Homo sapiens: one gene and its partner. The protein of the gene in region 1 purifies or fractionates together with the protein of each later gene. This does not show direct contact. Each region holds a gene or a part of one and is shown on either strand. Other genes may lie near its edges. The genes, in order: GUCA1B and SCARB2.

What was found.
Region 2: the proteins of GUCA1B (region 1) and SCARB2 purify together in Homo sapiens (affinity purification with mass spectrometry; one large-scale study listed by BioGRID and IntAct). This does not show direct contact.

The regions. Positions count from the first base shown.
Region 1 is NC_000006.12:42,191,904-42,196,154, reverse strand, and holds the start of GUCA1B (guanylyl cyclase-activating protein 2), read left to right. Parts: upstream 1-1,198; 5' UTR 1,199-1,334; coding exon 1,335-1,541; intron 1,542-4,251. UniProt on the Homo sapiens protein: Stimulates two retinal guanylyl cyclases (GCs) GUCY2D and GUCY2F when free calcium ions concentration is low, and inhibits GUCY2D and GUCY2F when free calcium ions concentration is elevated.
Region 2 is NC_000004.12:76,203,793-76,207,611, reverse strand, and holds part of SCARB2 (lysosome membrane protein 2), read left to right. Parts: intron 1-3,819.

The DNA of each region.
Region 1 (4,251 bases):
CTGCACTCCAGCCTGGGCGACAGAGCGAGACCCTGTCTCAAAAAATAGAAATTTAAAAAAAAAAAGCAAAGAAAAAGAAAAATGTGTGTCCCTGGTCTTTTGATTTCTTGGAGGTGTCATTTTTATGTTACATTAAAATAAGCATGAATATGTAATTGTTCAAAAGCAAATTTTACATGACCTATAATGTAAAAGTAAGAGCCTTCAAAGATATTTTAGGCCATGCTCCCAGATCCTTCTCACATGTTAGTATTTTGGAGGAAATGTGAAAAAGGCACTACCCCTAGGTCTTGTGTGAAGGGTTGGAGGGAGGCATTTGTAGTTTAAATCAGAAAGTGAAAAGCTCCCAAGATGAAAGGTGTAATCTGGAAAGGAGCTTCAGGGACCGAGTTAGCCTGGGAAGAGAGTTGCTCACCTAGAGCCCTTCCCATCATAGATTCTGCCTCTTTTCACTAGACCGTCTGAGGGGCGAGTCCCAGATCACCAGCAGATTCTGTTTTATGGCCTAGGACTTGATCTCACTTCCTCTCTGGATTTGAGTCTCCTGTCTCCAAGATGGGCCTCCCTGAAGCAATGTGAGGCCCAGCTAAAGAGATAGGGAGTGAGTGAGATGGGAGGATCCCAGCCTAGCACCCCGACTCTTTCTTCACTCTGCATCTCTCTGCTTACCTCTCAGTTTCTTCCCCTTCTACCTCTTCAGAGTCTACCAGGGCCAGCTTGGTTGCTTTGTTGACAAGGCTAAGGGAAGGAGTGAGGCTGGAGGAGTTTAGGCTGGAGGTCAGAACTTCCTGGGGAATCTCTTTTTTTTTTTTTTTTTTTTTTTTTGAGACAGAGTCTCACTCTGTCCCCCAGGCTGGAGTGCAGTGGTGTGATCGCAGCTCACTGCAACCTCTATCTCCCAGGTTCAAGTGATTCTCCTGCCTCAGCCTCCTGAATAGCTGGGATTACAGGTACCCACCACCATGCCCAGCTAATTTTTTGTATTTTTAGTAGAGACAGGATTTCACCATGTTGGCCAGGCTGGTCTCGAACTCCTGACCTTGTGATCCACCCACCTCGGCCTCCCAAAGTGCTGGGATTACAGGCATGAGCCACCGCACCCGGCCACCTGGGGAATCTTCTAATAGTCTTAGGGCAGCTTAGCTGGCCTGGACCCACCTCCCTTGCCACCTGCCCCCTGCACCGACTGATCATGTTCAGTCACCCAGGAGATGATGGAGAGGCTGATCAGGCCTCCTGGAAAGGGAGGAAGAGGGCCCTAGTTGGAGAGATCCATCAGCAGAAGCCAGGGAGGAGATACAGACCCTTGCTCCCTGATGCTCCTCAGGGCTAGCATGGGGCAGGAGTTTAGCTGGGAGGAGGCGGAGGCAGCTGGCGAGATAGATGTGGCGGAGCTCCAGGAGTGGTACAAGAAGTTTGTGATGGAGTGCCCCAGCGGCACACTCTTTATGCATGAGTTTAAGCGCTTCTTCAAGGTCACAGACGATGAGGAGGCCTCCCAGTATGTAGAGGGCATGTTCCGAGCCTTCGACAAGAATGGGGTAAGGCACCCTGAAGGGAAGGACCAGTGGCCAGTCCACCTGGCGCCTTCCTCCACAAGTGTCCTCAGGGAGAGCTCCCAGTTCCCCACTCCTCGGCTCTTTCTCTGCTCTTCTTTCCACTCCGTCTCTCTTTACCTTTTCTGTCTCACTCACCAAACCCTTCTGTCTCTTCTCTTCCTTTTGTCCCTTTCCATCTTCTCTGTCTCTCCTTCCCTCCCTCCATCTCTTAGCTGTCGGCTGATGCTCCCTGTGTCCTCTTCTTGAGAGCTGAAGGGCGACTGGCAGACAGTCCAGGTCCTCTCTTTGTGTATTTTTGACCAAGACTCTGCAGCCCAATGACCGGGTTTTCGCATCTGCCAGAGCCCCTGTCACTCTAAACACTAGGAGCAAAAGAGATGTTCTAAATGAGACAAGGTATCTTAGCATGGGCTATGAGCTCCCTCTTGTTGGGGTTCTTCTGAGACTGGTCAGATCCTCCCTGTCAAGAATGCTGGAAGAGGCTCCTGCATGTATTGGGAGACTGGGCGAATGACTGCAAAAGCCCCTTTCAGCTCTTCAAGTCCTGGAAGGTTTCATTAAATCATTCAGACTAGAGTTTCTCTAAGCCCACAATGTCACTAGCAGCTAAGAAGATAACACATCTTGTAAATGCACCAGGGGATTGAATTTTAAATTTCAATTCAGTTAAAAACCCCTTGATTATTTAAGGTTATCCAGTTCAGTGCCCTGGCAATCCTCAAATACCTCAAATACCTCAAATGCCCTGGTATTTGCCTCAAATACCAATTTAATCTGAAGAAAGTGTCAGTTCTCCATTCCTCAGTGCGTGGAGAACTTAGCTTTCTAAGCTGAATCACTGGGAATGCCACTTCAGGTCTCATCCTGTCGCTGGTACCAGTCAGTGCACGTCCCCACAGTGCCTGTCCCGGGACAGGAGGGTGAGGTCAGCACCTTCAATTCAACAGAACCTCCTTAGAGATGAACCCCATCGACCACCCCACAGGGCACAGAGCCAGTTTCGGACTTCTCAGCGCTCCGCCTCTCTTAGGTCTCCTCTGAATCAGCAGCAACCCTGGGTGGGAGGGGCAGACTTTTGTTATTCCAAATTAAATGATGAGAAAGCTGGGCAAAAGGGAATGAATCGATTTGCCCAAGGTCTTAAGTGCTCCTGCCTAGAAGGCAGGTTTTTTAAAGAGAGAAGATGACTTTTTAAAATAATTGATGTTTTTTTAAAATGTAAGAAAAGTAAACAAATATATCAGGTCATAAATAATAAGACTCATTTAAGTCCATCAATCTTCCCCAGATTCATCTAAAAATCAATACGATCATGATTCAAGATCCAAAGGGCTGATTAAGCCCCTAGGCATATAGTTGTACTCCTTATACCTCATCTCTTCTTATAAATCGGCATATGATGTTCATCAATGTTTTTTCCTTTTTGAATAACTTTTTAATTTTACTATGATTCTAAATTTACAGAAGAGTTATAAGAATGATACAAGTAACTCCCATATGCAATTTATCCAAATTTCCCCAGTTATTCACATTTTATATCATTTACTTTATCATTCTGCCTCTCTCTGTATACATACATATATATAATGTATCCTATAAGTATATATACATATACATGATACATAATTTATACATATACTTTTTTTAAGAGAAAGCTATAGATATCATGCCCGTTTATCCCTAAGTATTTCAGTGTGTATTTTCTTTTTTGTTTTTGAGACAGAGTCTCGCTCTGTCACCCAGTGGCATGATTTCAGCTCTTTGCGGCCTCTGATTTCCCAGGCTCAAGGGATCCTCCCACCTCAACCTCTCAAGTAGCTGGGATTACAGGTGTGCACCACCATGCCTGCTAATTTTTGTATTATTTATTTATTTATGTTGGTAGAGATGAGGTCTCGCCATGTTGCCCAGGCTAGAGTGCAGTGGCACAATCTCAGCTCACTGCAATCTCCACCTCCTGAGTTCAAGCAATTCTCATGACTCATCCTCCTGAGTAGCTAGGATTACAGGTGCACACTCCCATGCCTGGCTAATTTTTGTATTTTTAGTAGAAACGGGGTTTCACCATGTTGACCAGACTGGTGTCGAACTCCTGACCTGAAGTGATTTGCCCACCCCGGCCTCCCAGAGTGCTGGAATTACAGGCATGAGCCACTGCACCCGGCCAGGTTTCTTTCTTTTTTCCTTTTTCTTTTCTTTTCTTTTCTTTTCTCTCTTTTTTTTTTTTTTTTTTTTTTTTTTTGAGTTGGAGTCTCGCTCTGTCACCCTGGCTGTAGTGCAGTGGTATGATCTTGGCTCACTGCAACCTCCACCTCCCAGGTTCAAGCGATTCTCCTGCCTCAGCCTCCCCAGTAGCTGGGACTACAGGCGAGCACCACCATGCCCAGCTAATTTTTGTATTTTTAGTAGAGATGGGGTTTCACCATGTTGGCCATGATTGTCTCCATCTCTTGACTTCATGATCCACCCGCCTCGGTCTCCCAAAGTGTTGGGATTACAGGCATGAGCCACCATGCCTGGCCTTCCTTTTTCTTTTTTTTTTTCTTTTTTTTTTTTTGTATGATCATACATTGCATTTACTTGTTGTATCTCCTTAGTCTTCTTTAACCTGGAATCTTTAATCTCAGCTTTTCTTTTTTATTTGACTGTGACATTTTTGAAGACTGCAGCTGAGTTATGTTGTAGGACAGCC
Region 2 (3,819 bases), on another chromosome or scaffold:
AAGCTGGTAACTGGAAAAAACAACCAAGGAAAAATAAAGACCACTTTAGGTGTTTGCTTTCTATATCTAAATGCACTTTTGGGTACATGCTTTGGCAGTCATTCTTTCATTTGACAAATATTTACTGAGTGTGTACCATTTGCAAGGCAGTGTGCTAAGAGCTATGGATATAACACTAAACAAGAGGCAGTCTCTACCCTTGCAGATTTTATAATCCAATTTAAACTCCTGGGCCCCTCATATTCTTAAAAATTATTGAGGACCCCAAAGAACTTATGTTTCCATACCTATTGATAGTTACAATATTAGAAATTGAAACTGATATGTATTTTTGAGAAATGTTTAAAACAGAAGACTACACAAGCACATATTCCAATATGACATCATTATATATCACGTAACCTCTGGAAGACTCCACTCTACACTCAGAGAAATAATAGAATTAAAAACGCAAATGATACCTTAGTATTAAAATAGTTTTGACCTTGTGGGCGCCTCCTAAGAAGGTCTTCGGGCTCCCCAGGGGTCCTGAGATCACACTTTGAGAACTGTTGATCTAGTTTTCATTTAATTATTTTTTTAGAATATTTTTAAAAATACATAATATCCCTGTTTTATATTCCTGTAAGGCCAGTTTGGAAGCTATCTTGTTAATGTTTTCAAACAACCAGGATTTTGCTTGGTGTGTCTTTGATTTACTGTGTCCTTTTGGCTTTCCTGTGAGTCCAGTGTTAAAAATAGGAGTTTGGGCCATCAGTAATTCCAGTTCCACAATCTCTTGTCTTTCCCCGAGTGCTGATCAAAGTAGACAAGAGCATTCATATCTCCATAATTGAATTACTCAGTAATTCCCTTCTGGCCTCAGCCCTGCGGGGATTTTCAACCCATATGACGTAATTTGGTATTTTAATCTAGTATGAAAGCTCTCTTTGAAGGTAGATGTCCTGTCGTATTTAGTTTTGTGTCTTTTCTTACTGCCAAATGCAATGTCTTATTCAAAATAGATGGTCAGTAAGTGTTACTTGGATGAATAGAGAAAATAATTTCTTTGGAAATGATTTTGTTTGCATTTTGTTGTTTAGTCTCACATTTTGCCTCACTCTGTAGGCCAGTGGTCACATGTTTGTCTCATGAATGATTTATACCTTTAAAATCTGGAAACTTCACGTATTGGTCCAGATTTCCAGCTTCTCTTGAAACATGTGGATGTTCTTTGGTACTCGTCATACCAAGTTCTGTGTGGTAGCTGTCTCGGCAGAAAAGAGGCTGACCCTTAGAAGAGACCTGCCTTCCCTGTTTCCCACTGTCTTAGTCCATTCAGGCTGCTGTCACAAAATAGCATAGACTGGGTGGCTTATAAACAACAGAAATTTATTTCTTACAGTTCTGGAGGCTAGGAAGTCCAAGATCAAGGCCCCGGCAGATTTGGGGTATGGTGAGGGTCCACTGCCTCATAGATTATGGTCTTCTCACTCTAACCTCACATGGCAAATGAGCTCTCTGGGGTACCTTTTATGAGAACTAATCCCATTCGAGAGGGTTCTACGCTCGTGACCTAATCACCTCCAAAGGCCCCACCTCCTAATCTCACCACCTTGGGGGTAAGGATATCAACAAAGGAGTTTTGAGGGGACATAAACATTCAGACCACAGCACCCACCGTCCTTTGCGCCCTTATTGGCTCCCAAGGCCCAGTGAAGGTATCCGTTGTTGTGCATGTGCTGTTGTGTTTCTTAGAGTAGAGAAATGTTTCTCTATATCTGACACTCCTTACCAAAAGAAGGAAAATGAAAGATAGCTTGAGAGGATCATGTGTTTAACAGAAATGGGGGAGGGCATGTTTCTCTGTAGAAATGAATATTGCTGCTGGGGTTTGACATGCAAACAAATGTACAAACCCATGGCCTGTGTCACTCATTTGCCCTAGCCATCTGGCCCCTTCAGCATCTGAATTTTACACACTTTCCAGAGACAGTGTGAGGCAGAGTGCCATTGTTACACTAATGTAATCACTCATCACAAGTCCCATTTTTTAAAATTCATTTTTTAATTGACAAGTCAAAATTGTACATATTTAGGGCATGCAACATGATGTTTTGAGAGAGATATACATATAGATATACATAGTGAAATGGCTAAATCAAGCTGTTTAACATACACCTTACCTCAATTACTTATCTTTGTTTTGTGGTAAGAACACAAAATCTAATCTCAGCATTTTTCAAATATACAATATTTTGGGGTTTTATTTTATTTTATTTTTGTTTTTGTTTTTGTTTTTGTTTTGAGATAGGGCTTCTCTCTGTCACCCAGGCTGGAGTACAGTGCCACTACCATGGCTCACTGCAGCCTTGACCTCCTGGGTTCAAGCCATCCTCCTGCCTTAAACTCTAAAGTTGCTGGAACTACAGGTGTGCACCATGCCAGGCTAATTTTTAAATATTTTTTTGTAGAGATGGGGTCTTGCTGTGTTGCCCAGGCTGGTCTCAAATTCCTGAGCTTAAGCAATCCTCCCACCTTTGCCTCCTAAAGTGCTGGGATTACAGGCGTGAGCCACTGTGCCTGGCCCAATATATTGTTATCCACTGTGATCACCATGATGTACATTAGATCTCTTGAATTTGTTTATATCAAACTGAAATTTTGTGTCCTTTGACTAACATCTCACCAGTCCTCCCAGCGCCCACAATTCCCATTTTAAGGATATTTTCTTTTAACACTGTACTTCTGATAATCAACAGTAGTGGAAGAGGAGACATAGAAATAGGTAGGTAATGAAAATATTACTTATTTCAATTTTGAGAGATATAATCACAACCAAACAGGTTGCAAAATAATGAGACTGGCTGTGCAAGTTACACACAGAATGTGGGCCTTGTTTCCGTGGCCTTATTTCTTATTTATTCACATCTGAAACTCCTCTTTCTCACCCGCCTCCCCACTCCCCATATATGTATATATATATTCCCCTCCCGCTCCCAATTTTCACCTGGTTCTATGTTTAAGTTTCTATCGGTAGCTGCTTTTTTTCCCTTTAGGTCATCAGTTCTCAAACTTGGCTGTACATTTGTAATCACCTAGAAACTTTCAAAAATAAGTTAGTGGGTATTTTGTAGCAGGAGGTTTTTTGGGATTGTCATTCCACCATATTGTCCTGTATGTAATTTATAAACAAAGTACAGTTCACCCATGAGCTACATTTGAATCTGAACTATCAGAGCTCATTAGTTAAAATTATGACAGTTGCAAAATGAAAATGAGTTAAGCAACAGTGACATAAATAAATGAATGCCAATACATTTTTACTGAGTTAAAATAAGGTCAGGGAATAAGAGTAGAATGTTAATGGCAGTTTCTTTCTTTTATGTAAACAGTGGAAATTACTTAAATTACTGCATGAGTCTGGGTTGGGTTTGCTTCGTTTCAGGGAGCAATTTTAAAAAACAAAGCAAATCAATTGGTGTTTTGCCATTTGATGAGTTTTATTAATCTGGAGTCCAGTATACAATTAGGCCAATATACCATCCATACACAATTAGGGCAAGTTCTCCAAGTTGGTCTGCATTATCTCTGGATGAATTTAGACTGTGCAGATGGCAACATGGATGCTTAAGTTGTGTTTAATTATGAAGTAGCACTTTACTGACCTTAAAGAACAACCAGTAGTGCTCTCGAATCCCGAAACTTTCCTTAAAGGTATTACTGATTCCCGTGAAAGCCTAATGGATTCCCTGAGTGCTTATTTTTATCACTTGGAAGTGGCTTACATCAGGACAGCTGGTTTCACCACTCTCATGGTGTTGCCTTCCCAAAAGATTG